6 linked regions of the Homo sapiens genome follow. The protein of the gene in region 4 purifies or fractionates together with the protein of the main gene of each other region. This does not show direct contact. Each region holds a gene or a part of one and is shown on either strand. Other genes may lie near its edges. The genes, in order: KLHL21, ARHGEF2, LONP2, TBC1D3G, DROSHA and SERPINE2.

What was found.
Region 1: the proteins of TBC1D3G (region 4) and KLHL21 purify together in Homo sapiens (co-immunoprecipitation; one large-scale study listed by IntAct). This does not show direct contact.
Region 2: the proteins of TBC1D3G (region 4) and ARHGEF2 purify together in Homo sapiens (co-immunoprecipitation; one large-scale study listed by IntAct). This does not show direct contact.
Region 3: the proteins of TBC1D3G (region 4) and LONP2 purify together in Homo sapiens (co-immunoprecipitation; one large-scale study listed by IntAct). This does not show direct contact.
Region 5: the proteins of TBC1D3G (region 4) and DROSHA purify together in Homo sapiens (co-immunoprecipitation; one large-scale study listed by IntAct). This does not show direct contact.
Region 6: the proteins of TBC1D3G (region 4) and SERPINE2 purify together in Homo sapiens (co-immunoprecipitation; one large-scale study listed by IntAct). This does not show direct contact.

What each region holds. Positions count from the first base shown.
Region 1 is NC_000001.11:6,596,370-6,599,869, forward strand, and holds part of KLHL21 (kelch-like protein 21), read right to left. Parts: intron 3,084-3,500; coding exon 2,678-3,083; intron 1-2,677. UniProt on the Homo sapiens protein: Substrate-specific adapter of a BCR (BTB-CUL3-RBX1) E3 ubiquitin-protein ligase complex required for efficient chromosome alignment and cytokinesis.
Region 2 is NC_000001.11:155,951,048-155,954,547, forward strand, and holds part of ARHGEF2 (rho guanine nucleotide exchange factor 2), read right to left. Parts: intron 1,782-3,500; coding exon 1,581-1,781; intron 1,189-1,580; coding exon 1,069-1,188; intron 940-1,068; coding exon 872-939; intron 730-871; coding exon 694-729; intron 487-693; coding exon 436-486; intron 290-435; exon of another isoform or gene 226-289; coding exon 1-225. UniProt on the Homo sapiens protein: Activates Rho-GTPases by promoting the exchange of GDP for GTP.
Region 3 is NC_000016.10:48,242,868-48,247,099, reverse strand, and holds the start of LONP2 (lon protease homolog 2, peroxisomal), read right to left. Parts: upstream 2,801-4,232; 5' UTR 2,712-2,800; coding exon 2,479-2,711; intron 2,241-2,478; exon of another isoform or gene 2,097-2,240; intron 1-2,096. UniProt on the Homo sapiens protein: ATP-dependent serine protease that mediates the selective degradation of misfolded and unassembled polypeptides in the peroxisomal matrix.
Region 4 is NC_000017.11:36,330,384-36,333,883, reverse strand, and holds part of TBC1D3G (TBC1 domain family member 3G), read right to left. Parts: intron 3,437-3,500; coding exon 3,316-3,436; intron 2,603-3,315; coding exon 2,508-2,602; intron 2,124-2,507; coding exon 2,058-2,123; intron 1,595-2,057; coding exon 1,495-1,594; intron 1,125-1,494; coding exon 972-1,124; intron 9-971; coding exon 1-8. UniProt on the Homo sapiens protein: Acts as a GTPase activating protein for RAB5. Does not act on RAB4 or RAB11.
Region 5 is NC_000005.10:31,466,094-31,469,593, reverse strand, and holds part of DROSHA (ribonuclease 3), read left to right. Parts: intron 1-1,530; coding exon 1,531-1,655; intron 1,656-3,312; coding exon 3,313-3,412; intron 3,413-3,500. UniProt on the Homo sapiens protein: Ribonuclease III double-stranded (ds) RNA-specific endoribonuclease that is involved in the initial step of microRNA (miRNA) biogenesis.
Region 6 is NC_000002.12:224,001,287-224,004,786, forward strand, and holds part of SERPINE2 (glia-derived nexin isoform b precursor), read right to left. Parts: intron 637-3,500; coding exon of another isoform or gene 615-636; coding exon 356-614; intron 1-355. UniProt on the Homo sapiens protein: Serine protease inhibitor with activity toward thrombin, trypsin, and urokinase. Promotes neurite extension by inhibiting thrombin. Binds heparin.

The sequences.
Region 1 (3,500 bases), on a different chromosome or scaffold from region 4:
ACAGTGAGCCAAGAGCGTGCTATTGCACTCCAGCCTGGGAGGCATAGTGAGTGAGACTTCGTCTCAAAAACAAAAAAAAGAAACAAAGATACTACAAGACAAACAACAGTAGTTGTGAACCTGACACGGCAGCACAAAACCAGCCACAGACAATGCATAGACACGAGCCTGGCTGTGTGCCAAGAAAACTATCCATGGACAGACATTTACATCTCGTCTAACTTGAAATGTTATTCCTGATTTTTTGCCCCCAATCATTTCAAAATGTCAAAGTCACCCTCAGTTTGTGGGCCCTGTGGTGGTGGTGATGATGATGATGATTACACCCTGGAACCTGCTAGGCTGCCCTGTCTTTCCCCAGCAGAGACTTGCAAACCACAGCCCAGAGGCTGGACAGAGCTCGCCGGCATTCCCAGAGGGGGCTACTGCACCCCAGCCAAGGAGGCATTTTGTACCAGAACCAAGGGGAGGGAGGCCCAGGTCATTTGTGGGTCACATGGACAACGGCTGAGGCTGTGGCCTCCCTGAGAATGGCACGTCCTAGGCACAAGCTGCCCAAAGACAGGTGGTGTTCTGGGCAGAGGGTTATGTGGCTCTTGAAGAGCCAAAGTGCGCAGACAAAGTGACACCGGGACAAATAGCCCAGGGGGACCAGCCCCAAGCAGGGCCCCTGCATGCTTAGCCTTCTCTTTAGGGCTCAAGCAGCTTCCACTCAGGCTGAGCCTGGGCGCCCCTCCTCTGTGCTCCGGCACAGGTCACACTGGTAAGATGAACGCATGCAGCCTTTCCAGAGCACTGCCTCCTCCCACACGTGCAAGTGGCTTAGGAAACCCCTGGAAAGGTCAGCAGTGGGTGGGGGTGGCGGGGCAGACCCTCATGCTTCCCTATGGGAAGGTTAACCCAGCAGGCAGACCTCCCTGGCGCACATCTTCACATCTTGCTCTAGGACAGATGGGGGAGGGGAGGAGGACTCTCAAAGACACTGGGCCTGGAACCACTGCCTAGGGGCCGAAAGGAAGGTTCTGGCCCTCTGATAAGTTGTATTTATAGCCATCTCCACCCCCTCTTTGAAGACACCTTCACAACTTGGGGGAGGGAGAGCCGGGCAAAGGGTCAGATGATGTTTTATAATGGGACCAGAGCTGGCTGAGATTCCAGGGCTTTCTCAGAGCAAGACCATTGGTTCTGGGCATGTGGTGGTGCCCAGCTACTTGCGTGACAAGCAACGCCACCCCTGTTCTTCTTGGTGCTCACTCCAAAAGCCTGGTAAGGAGCCTCCTGTCTGGGGGGATGGTGGGGCAGATGCCAAGGCCAGGGCAGCTCTGGCAGTGCGAGGCAGGGGGCCAAGGAGCAGGGAGCTCACATCCCCCAAGCTCCCCATTCAAAGCCCCAGCACGAAAGGGCACAGTGGGGACTGTCATTCAGTTCTTCCCCTTCCCTCCTGGACCCAGAGCTTCAGGCAGGCTCTAGGCTGGGAGGGAGCAGCAGGATTATGTGAACAAGCAGCGGAGTACAGCAGGGAGGGGCTGCCCCGTGCCATCATTGATGCCCAGAAACCAGCCGGAGGCAGCATTTGGCTGTGACCAGACAGGTCATCAAGGCCAGCAGACATATGATGACCCGCAGGCTGCCTGTCTCTGCTCCGTGCTGCTCAGCCTACAGCCTACTCTTGCTGGAAGAGCTCAACTCCACCACCTGTGAAATCGCTTAAGAAAGCCTGGGGTTTTCCTTAAACCCAAAGGAATGGAACAAGCACTGTGGGCTCCGAAAGACCAGGCCTGGCTGGGTGTGGGGGCTCACACCTACAATCCCAGCACTCTGGGAGGCAGGAAATGTGAGACGATTGTTTGAAGCTAGGAATTTGAGACCAGCCGGGGCAATACAGCGAGACCCTGTCTCTACAAAAAGTTAAAAAATGAGCCAGGTGTGGTGGCTTGTGCCTATAATCCCAGCACTTTGGGAGGCTGAGGCAGCTGGATCACATGAGGTCAGGAGTTCTAGACCAGCCTGACCAACATGGAGAAACCCTGTCTCTACTAAAAATATAAAAATCAGCCAGGCATGGTGGCACATGCCTGTAATCCCAGCTACTTGGCAGGCTGAGGCAGGAGAATGGCTTGAACTTGGGAGGCAGAGGTTGCAGTGAGCCAAGATCGCGCCACTGTACTCCAGCTTGGGCAACAAAAGCGAAACTCTTCTTTTAAAAAAACAAAACAAAACAAAAAAAAACAGACCGGGTGCAGTGGCTCACGCCCGTAATCCCAGCACTTTGGGAGGCCAAGGCGGACCGATCATGAGGTCAGGAGATCAAGACCATCCTGGCTAACACGGTGAAACCCCGTCTCTACAAAAAATACAAAAAAATTAGCCAGGCATGGTGGTGGGCGCCTGTAGTCCCAGCTACTCTGGAGGCTGAGGCAGGAGAATGGCGTGAACCCGGAAGGTGGAGCTTGCAGTGAGCTGAGATTGCGCCACAGCACTCCAGCCTGGGCGACAGAGCGAGACTCCGTCTCAAAAACAAAACAAAACAAAAACAAAGAGACAGACCCAGCCTCCAACCCCAGCTAGGCCTCAGTTTCTCATCTGTGGAAAAGGGAGAACAGCCATGATGTGTGCTTAAGACAGGGCCTGGTAAGAGACACCAAACACACAGTGGGGCTCGGCACCTGGAACTCACCTGACAAAGTACATGAGTCCGTTTAGAGTCGCAGTCTTGGGGGCGAAGGACCAGGGCGGGAGCTGGCCGCAGTCCACCAGCGACCACAGGTCGGTGTCCGGGTCGTAGCACTGCATCACCATGGTCTCCTTGCCAGCCAGGGAGCCGATGGCATAGAGCCGGCCACGGCACGCAGTGGTGGAGCAGTTGTCCATGGGGTAGGTCATGGGCTGCAGGGCCTCCCAGGAGTCAGTGGTGTGGTCATAGCGCTCGGTGCTGTCGGCGGCCACCACGTACAGCAGTCCGTCCAGCACAGAGGAGCTGTGGTACTCGCGGGCCTTCAGCATGGGCGCCACCTCCGCCCACTCATTCACGCTTGAGTTGTACCTCCACACGCAGTCATAGAGCCGGGAGCCATCGGACCCACCTGCCAGGACGCATGACAGGCAGAAGATCAGCCCACTCAGGTGAGTCACCCACCTGCACCCTCCCGAACTTCCGCAAGGGCCTCTGCCTTGGGAGGAATTAACATCACTGGGCTTCACCCCAGACGCACACCCTCTCCCCAAAAGCCCAGGCCACATGTTGTGGCTAAGGCAAAGCACACGCTGACCACTGTCCAGCGAGATGACTGCTGCCAAGCCTCTACCAAACAAAGGTCCTGAGTGCAATGCTGGAAGAATCCAGCAGCCTCCTCTGGACACCGCCCCCCAGCCATACATACACCTCAGCAGACCAGAGCCCTGGGCCTTGGGACAGTTCTCCTGGGGAGCCACAGAGCTTGTCAGCAGGGCACACAGGGACTTGCTCACTAACTCCTAGGCTTCCTGGGCACCCTCCAAGC
Region 2 (3,500 bases), on a different chromosome or scaffold from region 4:
CCGTTCTTCACCTAGCCGCCGGCAGCGCCGTAGCTCCTCCTGCAGCAGCGCATGTTGCCGCTGCAGTAATGCCAGTTCCGTGGCCTGCTTTTCAGGGGCCACAGGGGCAGCCCCAGCCCTGCCAGCCTCCCCATCCCGAGAGTTGGCTCGGCACAGCTTCTCCCGCCGCTCAGGGCCCTCAGGGAACCGGGCTTCCATCAGAGTGTCCTGCTGGGCCACAGCTGCCTGGGAGTAGAATGCAGGCAGAAGGGTTTATCAGAACCCCTGTGCTCTTCTACCCCTCGCCTTCACCCTCCAAGGCCCAGATCATCGCTCCTGGAGAGCTTGGATTGGGAGGGTATTTAGAAAGGCCTGTTGGGATGACCATGCCCCACCTAAACAGGCATCTCTAGCCTGGCTCCTCCCCTTCCCCATTCAAGCCCTTGTCCTACTGACCTGTAGGCCATGTAGAAGTCCATAGAGATTGACCAATCGCTGTAACGCCTCCTGAGGACAGACAGGGTGGGAACAGGGCCCCAGCTTTAGGATGGGAGAACTGCCCAAAAGTTGAACAAGGGTGGGTGTGGGGACAGTAGGATCCGGAGACATACTTGAATGTAGACGCTTTCCCCACCCCACTCCAAACTGGGCTCTAACTACTCAGACTAAGAACATCCTCCCTTCAGTCTCCTATACCATCAATTCCCATCTCACCTCTTGCGGTGATCTCAGCTGATTTCCATTTCGATCCTGCAGAAATGGGCAAGAATGGGGAGTCAGCAGGCACACAAATCCTGGGTGCCTGCCCCTGACAGCTTTGTGTTGAGGATCCAGAGGCTGGCTGTCCCTCTCCCACCCTCTTGCCAAGTCCCAGAACCTCTTGAGGACCTACCCTCTGGCTAGAGTCTGAGTCAGCTCTGCAGAGTTCAATGGAGCCATTGAAGGTTCTGGCCTCACCATCTGTTGAGAAGGAGAAAAGGATGGCTGAGCTCACTTCCCTGGGGCCCTGATACCACTTGATCCCTGGTACCACTCTACTAACTTTGGCCCCTCCCACCTACTACCTTGGTCCCCTGCCCTGGTACTCACTGGCAGTGACCCCAGGACTCGTGTTACCACCGCTGTCTGGTTCCAAGGGCAGGGCTGGCTCTCGGGGTGTCAAGAGCAGTTCCACTCCTGGCCCCACCAGCAGGTCTTTCAGACCCTCCACTGTGGGGAAAGAGGAAGAGGTGAGAACAGGAATGACACAGGACCCTGAGGGGAATGCCATTCACCCCCACATGTGGGACACTTGGGCATCTGGGGGAATGCCCCCTGCACTGGCAGTGGGGTTTCACTCACACAACCACTGATGAGGTAAAGGGCAGTAAATGCCTACGAGGCAGCAGAGTCCATGCAGCATGGACGATATGGAGCAGCAGCAAGGACCACACCTCCTCCCCTGCCTTTCCCAGGAACTGGCCCAGAAGAGGCACTCAGGGCCGTTTATGGTTTATAGGGTTGGCATCCCACTTGTCTGTGTTTGTCCATGTCTAGTCACATGTCCACATTCTGTGACGGTGAGTGCTTGAGCCTGGACTCTTCCCTGGGAGCTCCCTCACCCTCACGGATGGCATCCTGCAGCAGCCGCTCGCCACGAGGGGACTCAAGGGACTCAGAGCGGAAAAGGCCCCTGGGCAGGGTGGGCAGGGCCATCCCACTGCCACCATCCTCTTCGGCCTGGAAATGGGTCATCTCAGCAAACAGCCCGACCTTCTCTCGCAGCAGCTCCACCAGTGCCCGGTCCTTCTGCTGCAACTCCACTGCAGATAAGGAACAAGTGAGGACATGAGAGGACGTAGGGGTATGCAAGAGCGCCAGTAGAGGACAGCCCTAGGGGAGAGGGGTAGGGTGGGGCAGTGTGGCAGACTTAATTTTGTTATTTTGGCATTTATAAAAAAGAAAAAGCTTTCTGTTGGTCAGGTGTAGTGGCTCACACCTGTAATCCCAGCACTTTGGGAGGCCAAGGCAGGTGGATCGCTTGAGGCCAGGAGTTCAAGACCAGCCTGGCTAACATGGCAAAACCCTGTCTCTACTTAAAATACAAAAATTAGCCAGGTGTGGTGGCACGCGCCTGTAGTCCCAGCTACTCAGGAGGCTGAGGCACAAGAATCGCTTGAACCCAGGAGGCAGAGGTTGCAGTGAGGCCGAGATCACACCACTGCACTCCAGCCTGGGCGACACAGCAAGACTCTGTCTCAAAAAAAAAAAAAAAAGATTTGTGGAAGGGGTTGCAGGTTGTCCAACAGTGTTCATTCTTTCCATCTTCCTTTAATGAGAAAATGCATAGAAGTTTCATCTGGGCACACATGGCTGCCCAGTTAACAACTATGTTTTCCAGCCTGACTTGCACGTGACTATATTGCTACATGACTACATTCTGGCCAATGGATATGAGCATCTTCCAGATCTGCTCTTAAAAGAAATGGGTATAGGCTGGGCATGGCAGGTGGATCACTTGAGGCCAGGAGTTCGAGACCAGCCTGGCCAACATGGTGAAACCCTATCTCTACTAAAAATACAAAAATTAGCCAGGAGTGGTGGTGGATGCCTGTAATCCCAGCTCCTTGGGAGGCTGAGGCAGGAGAATCACTTGAACGTGGGAGATGGAGGTTGCAGTGAGTCGAGATCACGCCACGCCACTGCACTCCACCCTGGGCGACAGAGCAAGACCCTGTCTCAAAAAAAAAAAAAAAAAAAAGAAAGAAAGAAAAAGAAAAAAGGGTATAAACTCTATTCCTTTACTCCTCCTTGCTAGGTGTGATACAGGTGTGACAGTGGGAGCTGGAGTAGCCACTTCAGACATGACATAGAGATGAAAACTTCATGTTAAAGATGGCAGAGCTGCACCACTACTCTGCACTTCCCACTTTGAACTGTTATGTTGACAGCAATAATATTCTACCTTGTTGGGGTTTTTTTTGTTGTTGTTGTTACCCAGACTGGAGTGCAGTGGTGCAATTATAGTGTATTACAGCCTTGAACTCCTGGGCTCAAACAATCCGCCCACCTCAGCCTCCCGAGTAGCCAGGACTACAGGTGTGTACCATCATGCCTAGCTATTTTTTTTTTTTTAATTTTTTGTAGAGACAGGGTCTTGCTATGTATGTTTTGTTGCCCAGACTGGTCTCGAACTCCTGACCTCAAGAGATCCTCCTGTCTCCCAAATCCTTCTGGGATTAAAGGCGTGAGCCACTGCATCCAGCCAATCTACTTCTTTTTTTTTTTTTTTTTTTGAGATGGAGTCTCCCTCTGTTGCCCAGGCTGGAGTGCAGTGGCGTGATCTCAGCTCACTGCAAGCTCCGCCTCCCAGGTTCATGCCATTCTCCTACCTCACTCTCCTGAGTAGCTGGGACTACAGGCACCCGCCACCACCCCCGACTAATTTTTTTTTTGTATTTTTTAGTAGAGACGGGGTTTCACCGTGTTAGCCAGGATGGTCTCAATCTCCTGACCTCGTGATCCGCCCACCTCGGCCTCCC
Region 3 (4,232 bases), on a different chromosome or scaffold from region 4:
ACTAGATGGTCTGATGAGTTCTTATAATGCCGGACTTCTATGAAGACTTTTCAATATATGTTTTCTAATTTAAATGATTAAATTTTAACATTGCTACTCAGTTAAAGGCAATAATATGAACATCAAGGATCAGATCACACAGTACCTGATTATTAGTGATTACTTTCAAGCAGGAGAATTGAGGATTGTTGCTTTGGAGGGATTTTCATAAAATAAATTAAAAACCTGAAGGGTATGGTGGCGCTTGCCTATAGTCCCAGCTACTCCAGAGGCCAAAGCAGGGGATAGCTTGAGTCCAGGAGTTTGAGACCAGCCTAAGCAACATAGTGAGACCCCATTTCTACAAAAAATTTAAAAATTAGCTGGGTGTAGTGGTGCACGCCTATAGTCCCAGCCACTCCAGAAGCTGAGGCAGGACGATCACTTGAGCCCAGGAGTTCAATCAAGGTTGCGGTGGGCTACGATCACGCCACTGCACTTCAGCGGAGGAGACAGAATGAGACTCTGTCTCAAAAAATACACAAATGAATAAATAATAAAAACCTTCCAAAATCTTGCCAGAATAATACCAACAAATAGTGAAACTTAAAATGTGACTAAATCGACTTTTCAAGTTCACAATGTGCCCATGGCTAATCAATACATATGCACAGTAGAAAGAAAATGAAGTCTAATAATGACCACTCTTGCCTAGACAGGGAACTAAGTGTGCCTGGGCACAGAAGGCAAAATAATTTGGGAAAAGTAAGCAGAAGGAGCAGAGTCGTATGTTGGGAAACTAGAATCCAATACAATTTATCAAAGAGTACTGAAACTTGGAATGTGACCAATTCCACTCAGGCAATAACCAAAGCAGGTCAGATGGGAGCCAAAATATTTTCCATGCTTGAGAAAATCAAGGCTTTTACAATATAAATGAATACTGGGCTGCTGTGGAAGGTTTGTTGGTCTTTGTTGCTTTGTTTTGCTTTCTTTTAACGGGGGTGGGGGGAGGTACCAGTCTCCTTTGAGAATCTGAAGAAAGCAAAGGATTCTCCTAAAAAAATGTACATAGTCACAAGATTTTGAGGAAAAATAAGACATGTCCAACCCTCCGGAAATCCATTCAGAGTCAGGAACCCCTAATTTAAAAATAAGGGATAACTGCCAGGAAAGGAGAAGCTCTAAACTGAAAACACAACACCTCCAGTAGAGTTAGGAATAGGAGGCGGGTGCTTGGCAGGTGAGTTTGAAGATACTTGTTGAGAGCATACGATATACCAGCATTGTCCAATAAAAATATAATGTGGACCACATATAAAATTTTAGTGGCCACATTATAAAGTAAAAACAGCAGAAATCTTAACATTTTATTAACCCCAAGTACTCAAAATATTACCTTTCCAACATTTAATCCATATAAAATGTATTAATCAAAAAGTTTTTTCAAAATCTGGCGTGTATTGTACACTTACAGCACATTTAGGGTGACCAACCTCCTGGTTTCCCTGGGACGGAGGGGCTAAAACATAGGACTTTCAATGCTAAAACAGACAATCGCAGCAAACCAGGACAACTGGCAATTCTATCATCTCAATTTGACGAGCCACATGCACTACACAGTACTGGACAGCAAAGTCATCCATCATGCATGGTGCAAAGTGGAATATACACATTATTCAATTTATTCTTCATAACTTGCCTAAGAGATGGATGCTGTCAGTTTCCAAATTGCAGAATAAAAGAAATAGAGGTTAAAGCTCTCACCCAAAGTCACACCAATAGGGCGAGGGTACTGGGCAATATAGTAGTAAGCCTGGGGCCTAAGAAATGTTATGAGTGAAGGAGCAGAGGTGAGAAGCTAGGAAAGTTCCAGAAAGGGGGACCAGCGAAAATGTGAGCAGTAAAGGCCCTTTACAAAGGGAAACAGAAGGATTAGGGGGAGAAGGAGAAGGGTGGCAGGGAGTATAGAAGAAAGGCACCCACAAATAGTGCAGTTTAGGAATGAAACAGGAAAAGTTAAAACTCACGGAGCAGAGAATGCCTCAGCGGACAAAAATGATGGGTGACAGAAAAGGGGAGGCGGATAGGAGTAAAGGGCAGTGGGGAGAAAGGTGAAAAGCGAAGGCAAGTGAAGGCAGAGATCACCGGGGAGAAAGAAAGGGCCTGGAAAGTTAAAAGCACTGGCCTAGGAGGCTGAAGACCGAGGGCGAGGAATTGCGGAGAGGGGGAAGAGGATTCAAATTAAATTATCCAGAACGGTAGGGAACTGCGTAGTTTCACCAGGTGTCAGGCACTACTTCATGAACGATCTCATTCATGGTCATGGGGCAGGTATCTGACATCCCCATTTTGCAAGTGATAGCACCAGAGAGGCGGAACCGAGCCGCGAAGGCCGCCCCGAACTGAGCCTCGCGCTCAAGGCAGGCCGTGGCCTGGGCCCAGGTCCCCGGAGGAGGCCGCGCCGCCCGCCGCCGCCGCGGGGGCAGCCAGGCCTACCTGTGCAGCGGCGGCAGGTCCTGCGCGTCGCTGGCGGGGTCAGGCGTGTTGGGGATGACGCCCAGGATGGTGCTTTGCAGCGACGTGCCCTTCAGAAGGCGGCTCCGCACCAGCTGCAGGTTGCGGGCCGAGTCCACGCTGGTGCGCATGGTGGAGCCGGGCAGCAGGACGCCCTCGTGGGTGAGCAGCAGCGGGAGGCGACTGGGGATCTGGATGGGGCTCACTGATGACATGCTGGCAGCCTTTCGCACTGGGGGCTGTCAAAAAGAGCCAGACAGACAGCTGCCCCCGGCCTGCCCCGCAGTCACCAAACCTCAGACCCGCCTCCACGCCTCCGCTTCCGGCTACGCGCTACGGTCCGTCCCCGGGCCCAAAAGCCATGGCTTCGCGCTGCTCTCTAGGAGAGCCTCCCGGTAAGACTTGAGCGTCCTACCTATGCGGAAAGACGTGCACTCAAGCGTGCAGCGACCTTCGCCTCACTTACAGAGTATATTTGGAAGGATGATCTTATTTGAATTGTATATACTTGAAGTGTTTTTAACGTTTTCTTCGATTTTTTACATATACTTGAAGTGTTTTTAACTTTTGATTCGAACTAATTATTTATTTATTTATTTATTTATTTATTCTGAGACAGATTCTCGCTCTGTCGCGGAGGCTGGAGTGCAATGGCGCGATACCCACGGCTTGCAGCCTCTGCCTCCCGGGTTCAAGCGATTCTCCTGCCTCAGCCTCCCGAGTAGCTGGGATTACAGATGCCCGCCACCACACCCAGCTAATTGTTGTATTTTTAGTAGGGAGGGGATTTCACCATGTTGGCCAGGCTGGTCTTTAACTCCTGACCTCAAGCGATCCGTCCACCTCGGCCTCCCAAAGTGCTGGGATTACAGGCGTGAGCCAACGTGCCCGGCCCGAATTGATTTTAGATGTACAAAACTACAGCAGAGTTCCTATATACCTTTCACCCAGTTTCGTCTGTTATCATCTTACATAATCATAGTTCAATGATCAAAACCAGGAAATTAACATTATTATCGTTTAACCTATAGGCCTTACCCAAATTTTGCCAGTTTTCCCACTAATGTCCTTCATTGGATCTGGTCCAGGATCCAATATCCAGGATCCTGTTGTGAAATCTCCTAGGTGTTTTGTTATGAAATCTCCTAGGTGTTCTCTAATCTGTGGCAAGTCCTCAATTTTTTTTTTTTTTTTTTTTTTTTGAGACGGAGTCTCGCTCTGTCACCCAGGCTGGAGTGTAGTGGCGAGATCTCGGCTCACTGCAAGCTCCGCCTCCCGGGTTCATGCCATTCTCCTGCTTCAGCCTCCCGAGTAGCTGGGGACTACAGGCACCCGCAACCACGCCCGGCTAATTTTTTGTATTTTTAGTAGAGACGGGGTTTCGCCATGTTAGCCAGGATGGTCTCAATCTCCTGACCTCGTGATCTGCCCGCCTTGGCCTCCCAAAAGTGCTGGGATTACAGGCCTGAGCCACTGCGCCCGTCCAATTTTTTTTTTTTTTACAACCTTGATACTTTTATTTTTTTTCTGTTTTTAATTTAATTTTATTTTTTATTATAGTTTAAGTTCTAGGGTACATGTGCACAACGTACAGGTTTGTTACATATGTATACATGTGCCATGTTGGTTTGCTGCACTCACTAACTCGTCATTTACATTAGGTATATCTCCTAATGGTATCCCTTCCCCCCCACTCCCCACCACCCAACGACAGGCCCCTGAGTGTGATGTTCCCC
Region 4 (3,500 bases):
GGGTTTGGCTGAAAGGAAAACAGACGCGGTCAGCATCTCCAGTGAGCCCACGCAGGCCTTTCCGGGCTGGGCCCCACCTGCCTGCGTCTCTGGAGTCCTCGGGGTCTCTGTGTGGCCCCCGTGGCCTGACACCGAGGACACGCCTGTAGTCTGCTGATCCCAGAGGGAGGGGTGCATGCTGCCTGGCGTGGGGAAGCTGTCGTGGCATGGCGGGTGGCTCCTGGGACTGCCCCCAGGGTTCAGACTGGCTGGGGGCTTCCTGCCACACACCTTCGTCCCAGGGCTGTTGGGCCTGGGATACGGCCCCCAGTCAGAACTCAGGTGGGAGGGGCCTTGGATGTCACCCAGCCCCTTGTCACCTCACGTGGGGACCCGTCTCCGCAGTGGGTGATTGGGCCCGGACGTGGGTCACCCTCTGCCCTCCTGGGCTGCCCAGTCCATGCCAGGACTGACCGTTCCCACTTCTGGCTGAACTCTTGGCTCTGGCTCTGGGCCCTCTCCCTGAATGCTCTGTGGGTCAGGGACACGGATTCCCTTGTCTCCCTGGCTCCAGGCTTCTTGTCCTGGCAACCTTGGAGGAGCGTGCAGGAGTGAGGGGCCTCTGCTGCTCTCTGAGGCTGTGGGTGCTTGCAGGGAGGGGCGGGGTCTCCCACAAATGGGTCTGGGCTCGTCTAGTAACTTGGAGGGCCCTGCGAGGGGGAGAGGGAGACACCGTGGAAAGTGGGAGGGGGCTTGTTGGAGGGTCTTGCCCACATCCCCCTCCTGCATGCACAGCATGTCCAGTATACACGCACTGAGCGCCTGCCCTGAGGACCGGTGGGCCTCCTGTACTTTCTTAGAGTCCAGGAGGAAGAGGAGGAAGAAAAGGTGAAGAGGAAGGCCCAGGTAGTAGGGTTGCGGGTCCCGGGCACTCCCCTACTACTGACTACCCCAGAGGGTGACATGGGAGGGGACATGGCACTGGAGCCCACCTGGGGGTGGCAGGTCCCCCTGCTTTCTTGTTAGTTTCTTCATAGAGGCCCTAAGATGCTTGAGCACAGTGTCCTCATCCCTGGCCCAGGTATCAACGAACCGGTTGCAAAAACGTGCCCACGGGCCACACCTGGACGTCTTCGTGAGGCGCTCTAGGGACAGGGTGGATATCAGGCCAGGGGAGTTACCTGGGAATGGTCACAGCTCATATCCCGTGGCCACTTCAGTCTCCTACTGGGCGGTGCCGGATCCTTTTGTGGCCACCCCAGGTGTCCAGATATACACAGGAGACTGTGGCTGGGGGGCGATCCGGACAGGGAAGTGCTCACCACACTCTCGACTTTCATCTGGGTCATGTGGGGGATGGGCTCAGTGTCACAGTGTCCTGCCCAGCCCACCTGGCCAGACCTCCCTCTGGGCCAGAACAGCGGATCATGAGGACAGTGTGAGGAAGCTGCCCTCGGGCCAGTCGGGGTCTGACCCCAGGGCTCCCCAGGCCCCGCTGGGCACACGTAGACTTACTCTGCTGAACCTTAAAGGCGATTCTTGTTATCGGCATCAACGCCTGTTCGCCTTCTACCAGATACACGTCCCACAGGCGCAGGGTGAGCCCGAGAGAGATCTGTGGGGACAGCAGGTGTGAAAGAACCTGGTCCTTCCAGGCTGGGGCTGGTGGCTCGAGCTGCGCACACTGGGGCTTCAGTCTCCAGAGTCAGTGACCTTCCCCATGAGGGTCGCCTGAGCCCTCCAGGACGCTGGGTCAGACAAGGTCTTGAAGCTCCTCATGGGGGGCACTCATTTGAGTGGGGATGTGGCTCCTGGAGAGAGGGGCTTGCCCAGGGCTTGAGGCTTCCCTGAGCCCTCTCAAGTCGGGTCCTGGCCCAGTCTGCCCATGAGGCTGGGCCTGAGCCCCAGCCATGGCCCTGGGATGACCCCCCTTGGGCAGAGGGTTTTGCTTGTGTGTCCTTTGGGGACCCGCCTGAGCCTCCTGTGGGCTGGGAGTGAGCCAGACCCCCGGGCTGGGGAAGCAGGGCACTGCAGGGCAAGGAAGGTCCCTGAGCCAGGGTCTCCCTATGCCTCCTTACCCCGTCAATCAATATCCGGATGAGGCAGCCTAACGGGGAACACTGCCCACATAGATCTTTCTTGTCCTGATGGAAGCAACAGAGGTGCTCAGGCCACTGGGCTGCCCTAAAAACCTCCCTCTTCCAGGGCCTCTGAAGACCCTTCCCCTAGTGCAGAACACTGGGCGGTGTCCAGAGCTCCCCACAACACTGTCACCTTCCCACACTCCCGGTGGACACACTGCCCTTTGCCCTGCTCTGTGGGAGCTGGGCCCCCATCCCTGTGCCTCTGTCTCCTCCAGGGCAGGAAAGGAAACCAACTCCCAGCCCATGGAGAACCCGACGTCCCAGGTCAGGCCCTGGCTGGGACTCAGCCAGTCACCAGCCCCACGAGGGGCTCCAGCCCCCCTGCTCCTACAGCCCCACGGGAGGCAGGGCCTCTGGGAAGAGCTGAGGGGACCATAAACTCACCTGATGCCCCATGGTCTTGGGTTGTGACGTGGCTACCACATGCTCCTGTTGGTCTTGGAGCCCCTGGACGGTCCCGCCATTTGGGCTGTGAAATCCTGAGAAGCCCCCAGCCCATCATGAAATCAGAGCCTTCCCCCAAGATGTGGAGCCATCAGCTGCAAGAGCTGGGCAGCTGGAGAGGCCCCCAAACCCCAAGGCCTCCCACCCTCCCATCTGGTGACCCCAACATGCGGCCTTTACCCTGGGGAGGTGGGGCGGGAACATTCCCTGGAGCCTGGCTGGAGGTTCCCCTGGAGGCCTCCTGGGCCAGGGTGCAAAAAGGGCAAGCCTGACTTTCAGGCCACGACAGGGTGGCCGGAACTGGGTGGGCGCTGGGCTTCCCGGTCATCTCCTGGTAGTGGGGTCGGGCCAGGGAACAGGGGATGGGGAGATGCTGCCACCTGGGCTTGGTCGGCCCATTCGTGGGCACCGATGGCAGCAGGAGCCCGGGCAGCTGGAGGGCAGGAGGACTCTCAGGGAGGGGAGAGTCAGCTGCACAGAATCAGAGCCGGAGGGCGTGGCTCCAGGACACAGAGGGTGGCCACGGGGAGGATGAGATGCCCTCTGCTGATGGGGATGACAGGCGTCTGATTTGGGCTTTGGGGGTCAGCCGTGGACTCCTGTGGGACCCTCAGCAGAGACATCCTAAAGTCTCCCAACAAGCTGGCGACACAAGGAGGGTGCCTTGGCTGAAAGCTGTGATCACCTGGCCAGGGTGGCCATCCCCAGGTCTGGCTGCAGGAGGTCCCCGGGGCAGCTGTTCACTTACCCTGCAGGGAGTGCCTCTCACTGGCCAGCAGCTGCACCAGTGCCCAGAATGCATCCTCCTCAGGAAGATAGAGGAGGAACAAGGCGGCGATGTGGCTCAGGTCCCTGCAGTAGCCCACCTCCTGCAAGAGCCAGAGTCACCATGGAAGGACATCACCTGGGAGGGCTGAGGTCACCTGGGAGGAC
Region 5 (3,500 bases), on a different chromosome or scaffold from region 4:
GTATCCTGCTGTTTTGTTGTACAAAATAATGAAAGTAATTCTTTGACCTTAAATAGCACGTTGCTACTGTTGATGGGCATTTAAATAATTTTATAATGGATTACATGTGAACAAAATATTTTCCATTTTCAAATTTTGAGAGCAGAGACCAACTTTTCAAGAAGCTAGTGACATTTTGTTTGTTAAATGACACTTAAAAAGTTTGAGGGGTTTTTTTTTTGTTTTGTTTTGTTTTTTGAGACAGAGTCTCACTCTGTTGCCCAGGCTGGAGCACAGTGGTGCGATCTCAGCTCACTACAACCTCCGCCTCCCGGGTTCAAGTGATTCTCCTGCCTCAGCCCCCTGAGTAGCTGGGACTACAGGTGTGCGCCACCACGCCCGGCTAATTTTTGTATTTTTAGTAGAGATGGGGTTTCACTATGTTGGCCAGGCTGGTCTCGAACTCCTGACCTCGTGATCCACCCGCCTTGGCCTCCCAAAGGTTTGAGTGTTTTAAGTAATGTGGGTGAATTCACCCAAGTTTATCCCTTTTGTCACCTCATTGAATATTTGTCAGATGGCTGGCTGGTATCACAGTTGTAGGTAGAGTGACCAGTTTGTCCCAGTTGCTGAGAGATTTCCTGGTTTTAGCATTGAAATTCCTCTGTCCCAGGGAAACCAGGCAGCCAACCAGACTCTAATTGTTGGGCATTGTTGTGGGACAGAATGAAGATTATTGGCCTCTGTGTGAATCAGTTTTAACAGCCTTAGCCTCCAAAGCAACTGAGCCGCAGACTCTACAGTGTGCTAGTGAAAACTGAATCTCTAATTGAGACTGTCCTGAGAGGTGATTATAAGGAAGGAGGTTGCTGAAACCTGTTCTCTGTGATTTTACCATCTTTTCATAAATTTAAGCTTTCAAGATGAAAGCCATTTCACAAATGATCCAGAAGGAATGAGCCATTCACTTCTTCCTTTATTAGACATGAAGAAAAAAATATGAGGCTCTCTGTTAAAATACACAAATGTCCTACATGGACATAATAAAAGAAGCTTAACTATTTGGCCTTTGCACCACTATACTTTCTAACTTAAAGATGTAGAATTAAAGGAATACATAAGATCCACTGAGAACAAGTGAGGGAAAAAACTTAAATAGAGGCATCTGTGCATTCTGAAATGTGAAATTAAAGCAGAAGAGGCTCTGCCTGTGATGTGGAATCCTTCCCCTGTGCCTTCAGAGAGGTTAAGGAAAAGTTATATCTGACTAGGTGTCCTTTTAAAAGTTTAATTTTTAAAGGTTTCTATGTGGACTGCAAAAAAGGACAAAATCATTGTTCATTATGCCAAATGGCATAGGCTCATTTACAAGGATGACATTATAGTTTTTAGATAGTATAGCTGCTGTAATTAAAGGGTTTTAAATGACCTTTTCCCTTTGGGGACAAGGCTTTCCTGGAAAAAAGTCCGATTTATTCCTTCCCTACTTAGGTTAAAGTCAATACATAAAGACTTCTTATGGGAATAAATGGCTTTGATTTTTCTCTCTAGAAACCAAGCTCTGTCCGTATCGATCAACTGGATCGTGAACAGTTCAACCCCGATGTGATTACTTTTCCGATTATCGTCCACTTTGGGATACGCCCTGCACAGTTGAGTTATGCAGGAGACCCACAGTAAGATATTTCTCAGTGTTTGTCTTAGCCAATTTCACCTTCTACTAACAGCCAAATTAGCAGAGAAATACCCTTTAGTGGATGTTTCCTTTTTAAAAATTAAGACCTGAAATGAGCCATACTTCCAATTTAGATTACCCAAATGAAACAATTGTGGTAGCTCCTGAAGAATTATTTTCTGTACATATTTGAGTGCAAGAAACTATTATTCAATAGAATATTTTTGGCAAACTTGGTCAACATAAGTCCTTGTATGTTTTTAAACTTTAAGGAACTTTTTCTTTATTCATCCTTATAATAATAATTATTATTTTTTATTTTTTCAGTGCCCTCTAGAGGAAAGTAGCACATATTGGTTCCTAGCACTGCCGAATTTATGCAGAGTTCTCTTTTTGGGGGCATCTTAAGAGTTCAAGATCACATGCAAAGTCAAGGTTGTGTTGGAAGTAGGAGCCGTGACTTCTGACTCTTAGGATTGATGTAACTTTCCACGTTTTGATTTTTCCAACTGGCATGTTAGTGTTTTCTGGGAGAAGATTTAGGATGTGTGGGAATGGAGATAGTACCATTAGATTCTTCGGGACTGTTTGGATTTCCTACCTTGCTAAACACACAAACAGCTTCCTGACTTATTTTTTTTTTTTTTTTAAAAAGGATTCATAGTGGGAGAAAAGGGCATGGGAGATTTTCAATTCATAAATACAGTTCTGGCTGACATATATTAGAAGAGGCTAAAGGGTTTTGTTCTTTTTTTTCCCCCTTTGGATAAAAGTATGAAGCAGTGAACCAGGCACTGTGTAAGTACTTCTTTCTTTCCTCCATTCTCTTAAAAAAAAAAAAAAAAGTTTTCAAAAAAGGAGAGGCCCAGCTAAGGCCAAGAAAGGAACAGTTTTAATGTGACAGAAAATCTTTGGAAAATCCCTTCTTGTCAGAAAAATGTTAGTAGAATGTGATGAGGCTCTCGTGGACTCTCAGATGGCAGGACTGTGAATTGATAAAGGACTGCATATTCGCTTCATTTCCAGGACGCTTTGACAGTATCCTTTAGACTGGTCTAGGTTATCACTTATTTGGCTGCAACAAATATGCTTATATTGTCATGGTAAATACAAATTGGTATACACCATTAGTCTTTTATCCTCTCCAGTGGACAAATGGATACAGCTATGTAGCTTGGGTTTTGGCACAAATGGGGTTCTCTATTCTAATACTCTTCAACTTATATTTGGTATAAGTAGTTCAGCAACTGACAGTCTCCCTAAGGAAGGGGTCTTTCTTTCAACAAATATCAGAAAGTGTATATTTAAATAAAATCTGTTATTTTCAAGAGGTAACAGTGAGAAACAGGATGATTCCTTTGGTTGAGGTGTTTTTGTGTCTTTGGAATTCTTTCCAGAGATTCATTCATATAGTCACACCTCATTTCCAACTGAAATAAGCAATAATCAACTTAATCACCAGGTTCCAGTTGACTCTTGTCCATCCTGACTCTCAGCCTCAAAGTCATAGCCTTCCTTAGAATGATGGCTTTCTGCCATTAAGAATAATCAAAAGAATGTAATGTATGATTTGAAGAGGCCTCTTAAAATAACTGGTTTTGTTGCATTTTAGGTTTACCTCCTCTTTACCTGAGATGTTTGCCTGTCCTTTTCCTTAGGTACCAAAAACTGTGGAAGAGTTATGTGAAACTTCGCCACCTCCTAGCAAATAGTCCCAAAGTCAAACAAACTGACAAACAGAAGCTGGCACAGAGGGAGGTCTGTATCAAACTCCATTCCTTGGTGATTAACGATGATGTGCTTCAGGTTTATTTCGTGATTGTTGTATCACACTATACTTCTGGTA
Region 6 (3,500 bases), on a different chromosome or scaffold from region 4:
GCTTCACAAGCACATCTACGATCACAGCGCAACTCAACCCTGGGCGCCATGGAGGCGGTAAGCCAGGAAGTGTCCCCCTCGCTGGAACGAGGGCTGGAGCCCTGGGAAAGGAGACCTAGTGGCAGACCCCAAGCTCCAAAAGTACAAAAAAGGGACCAGAGTCTAGTTCTCCTAACTGCCAGCACCACAGTGTTTGTTCTTTAGAAGAGACTGACCCCAAGCCCCAAGTGGCACCAGCAAATCCCCTTCTGGCTGCTCTGCTTCTTGGGGTTGTCAGCAAAAACCAAGCCATAAACCCTCCTGTCACAAGACTCTCAGGCAAAGGCTCCGCCAGTGAGCAATTGTGCACACGCACCATTTACGCCGTATCTCATCACCATGGCGAGCTGCTTCTTGGTCCTGCCGTCCGCCCCCAGCTGAAGCATCCCCAGGACCGACGCAATCCCATGGGGAGAGATCACGATGTTGTCATGAGGCCTCGACTTCACAATCTGATTGAAAACCTGGATCCCCGTGTTGGAGCCTAGTTCCTCGAGAGACAGAGGATTGAAGTGGGAGCAGATGGAAGGCAGCGTCACAGAGGCCAAGAGGAAGAGGGGGAGATGCCAGTTCATGGTTCCTTCCACCAAGGACGACCTGGAAAAGTAAGTTAAAAAATATTTAAATTATACTTAAATGGGTACTTTACTACTTTTTTTTTTTTTCCCCCAGATAGAGACTCGTTCTTTCACCCAGGCTGGAGTGAAGTGGTGCCATCTCAGCTCACTGCAACCTCCGCCTCCTGGGTTCAAGCAATTCTCCTGCCTCAGCCCCCTGAGTAGCTGGAATTACAGGCGTGTACCACCATACACGGCTAATTTTTGTATTTTTAGTAGAGATGGGATTTCACCATGTTGGCCAGGCTGGTCTCAAACTCCTGACCTCAAGTGATCTGCCTGACTCAGCCTCCCAAAGTGCTGGGATTACAGGTGTGAGCCACTGTACCTGGCCTGCGAGGCCATTTTGTACTCACCTAGTATGCTTGACTGTACTCAGCATAATTGAATGCCATGTGAATATATTTAAGACAGAACAGTGTAATTAAATCAGTTTTCAAAACACACCCTGGGGAGGTGGGGAGGGAAAGGAAGCAAACTTCCATCTCTTGGGTCCTTACAATGTGCCAGGTCCTATACTAATCATTATTTAATTCTCGGTTATTTTATTTTTATTTATTTATTTATTTTGAAACAGTCTCACTCTGCTGCCCAGGCTGGAGTGCAGTGGCGCAATCTCGGCTCACTGCAACCTCCGCCTCCCGGGTTCAAGTGATTCTCACGTCTCAGCTTCCTGAATATGTGGGATTACAAGTGTGCGCCAACTCGTCTGGCAATTTTTTTTTTTTTTTTTTTTTTAGTAGAGATGAGGTTTCACTGTGTTTGCCAGGCTGGTCTCGAATGTCTGGCCTCAAGTGATCCGGCCTCCCAAAATGCTGGGATTACAGGCGTGAGCCACCATGCTCAGCCTAATCATTATTTAATTCTCATAAGTGCCCTTCATCCAATTAAGCCAATATTTACTGAGGGTTCACTGGGTGTCGGACCCTTTTCTAAGTGTTAGGCATATGACATAACTGAATGGACAAGACTCTCACCCGCACTGAGCTTACAATCTAGAAGGGAGACAGAAAATAAGCCAGCAAGCAATAAAGCATTTTCAGAAAAGGATAAAGAGCACAATGATAAAATACAGGGATGCGAGCAGATGAGGGGCCGGCAGGGTGCGGGGGGTGGTCATTAGATAGGGTGATCAGGGAGCCATCTCTATGGCAGGAACATCGTGATGAGACCTGAATGGGGGAAGGAGCCAGCCACACTCTGATGGGTAAACAGTACGCTGGGCAGAGGGAGAGCAGGGCCGAGGCCCTGACGTGGGAATAAACTTGGTGTATTAGAGGCCAGTGTGGATGTGAAATCAAGGTCGTAAAGAAGGGAGACAGGTGGGTGAAGCCGAAGGAGAGTTCAGATCTGGTAAGGTCCTGTAGAGCCTGGAAAGGCACTGGGATTTCACTCCAAGGGTTACAAGAAACCCCTGGAGGATTTCAAACAAGGGAGTGAATCCCTCGGGTTGCTCTGATTATCTTATAACCACAAGCGCTTGATTCTTTTACCATAAGCACACTGCTTTTAAAATTAAAGAATTATTAATTAAAATAAACTTAAGTGACTGCTTTAAAGTTACAATAGGGTAGGACAATTGGTAAATTCATCAATTTTGAGGATGGTGTTGCTTACACGGATGTTCTCAACTACAGTGATTTGTTTTAAAGAAGCTTCCTTCCTTAATTACCACTCACAGAGCTTTCTCTGGCTATGACAAGTAAGAGGTAGGAAATTTACATGTATTTATGGAAAAGCAAATACTTTCATTAAGTAAGAACTTAACAGTGGCAGCTGGTAAAACAAAAGCAGCATTCGTGATGTTGCTAATTCAGTTCTTCCCCAAGAGGCCCAAGCTCCTGCTAAGCACAGTCTCCCGTGGAGCCAATGTGTCCCACTCTGTTGTTACGTGTGGGAGGTTAGGGGTGACTGCAGAGAATAAAACAGAAGGGGGCCTTTTAAGAGACAGGTGACCTGGAGGGAGGGGGAAATCATGTCTCTGTGTGCTCTGGGGGAAAGCATGGGCACAACCACAGTGTTAGGCAAAACTGGCCCCGTATTTGGTGTCTCCTTGCCTTCCTTTCTACACACTTTCTGTGCTTCCCACCCTAGGGCGTAGGAGATGTTCAATAAACACTTGTGAGATTAATCCGATGGCTCATAAATACTTCCTATTTTTATTAATTAATCTTTCCCTGCATCACAACAGCGTTTATGGAGTGTGGCTAAGAAAACGCTTGTGTTTAATCCTGATCCTCACGGTCAGCTCAAGACACTCTCTGAGGGAAGAGCCACCATCACATCGAGCAAGGACTGTGGGCACACGCAGAACTCCCTGCCTGGCCCCCCGACACAGAGGGCCCCACTGTGAACCACTGAGGCCATCCTTCCAGCTGATGTTGCAAGTTTCTTATATGTTGTGAAACAAGCGCTTTTCTAAAGATTTAGAATGTTCCGTGTTTCTCCAGAGCTTCATTGTAAAACAATTGTATCAACTCAGCCCGTCTAAATTCAAAACATGTAAGTGACCTACATACGCTGCTCCCGCTTGGGCTCAACGGGCCAGCGTGGCCTATTTTGACTTTGGCACCTAGGACTGGCTCTAATGCCACGACAATCCCTGGAGTTTCCTGGAGCCTACTGGACTTTGGAGAGCGTCCAAATCATGACCGTGGAAGCTTTATTCATTCCATCTAAAAACTAGAAACTGTGTTCTCCCCTTCCTTCCTCCCTCTTGCCTTTTCTTTCTTTTGAGCAATAAATATCCTCTTTAAAATTTAATATAGCACAAAGTCATCATAAGTATAAAACATTGTGTACAATCTTTCTTACAAATGGCCAAATGCAGTGACCAACTTCATC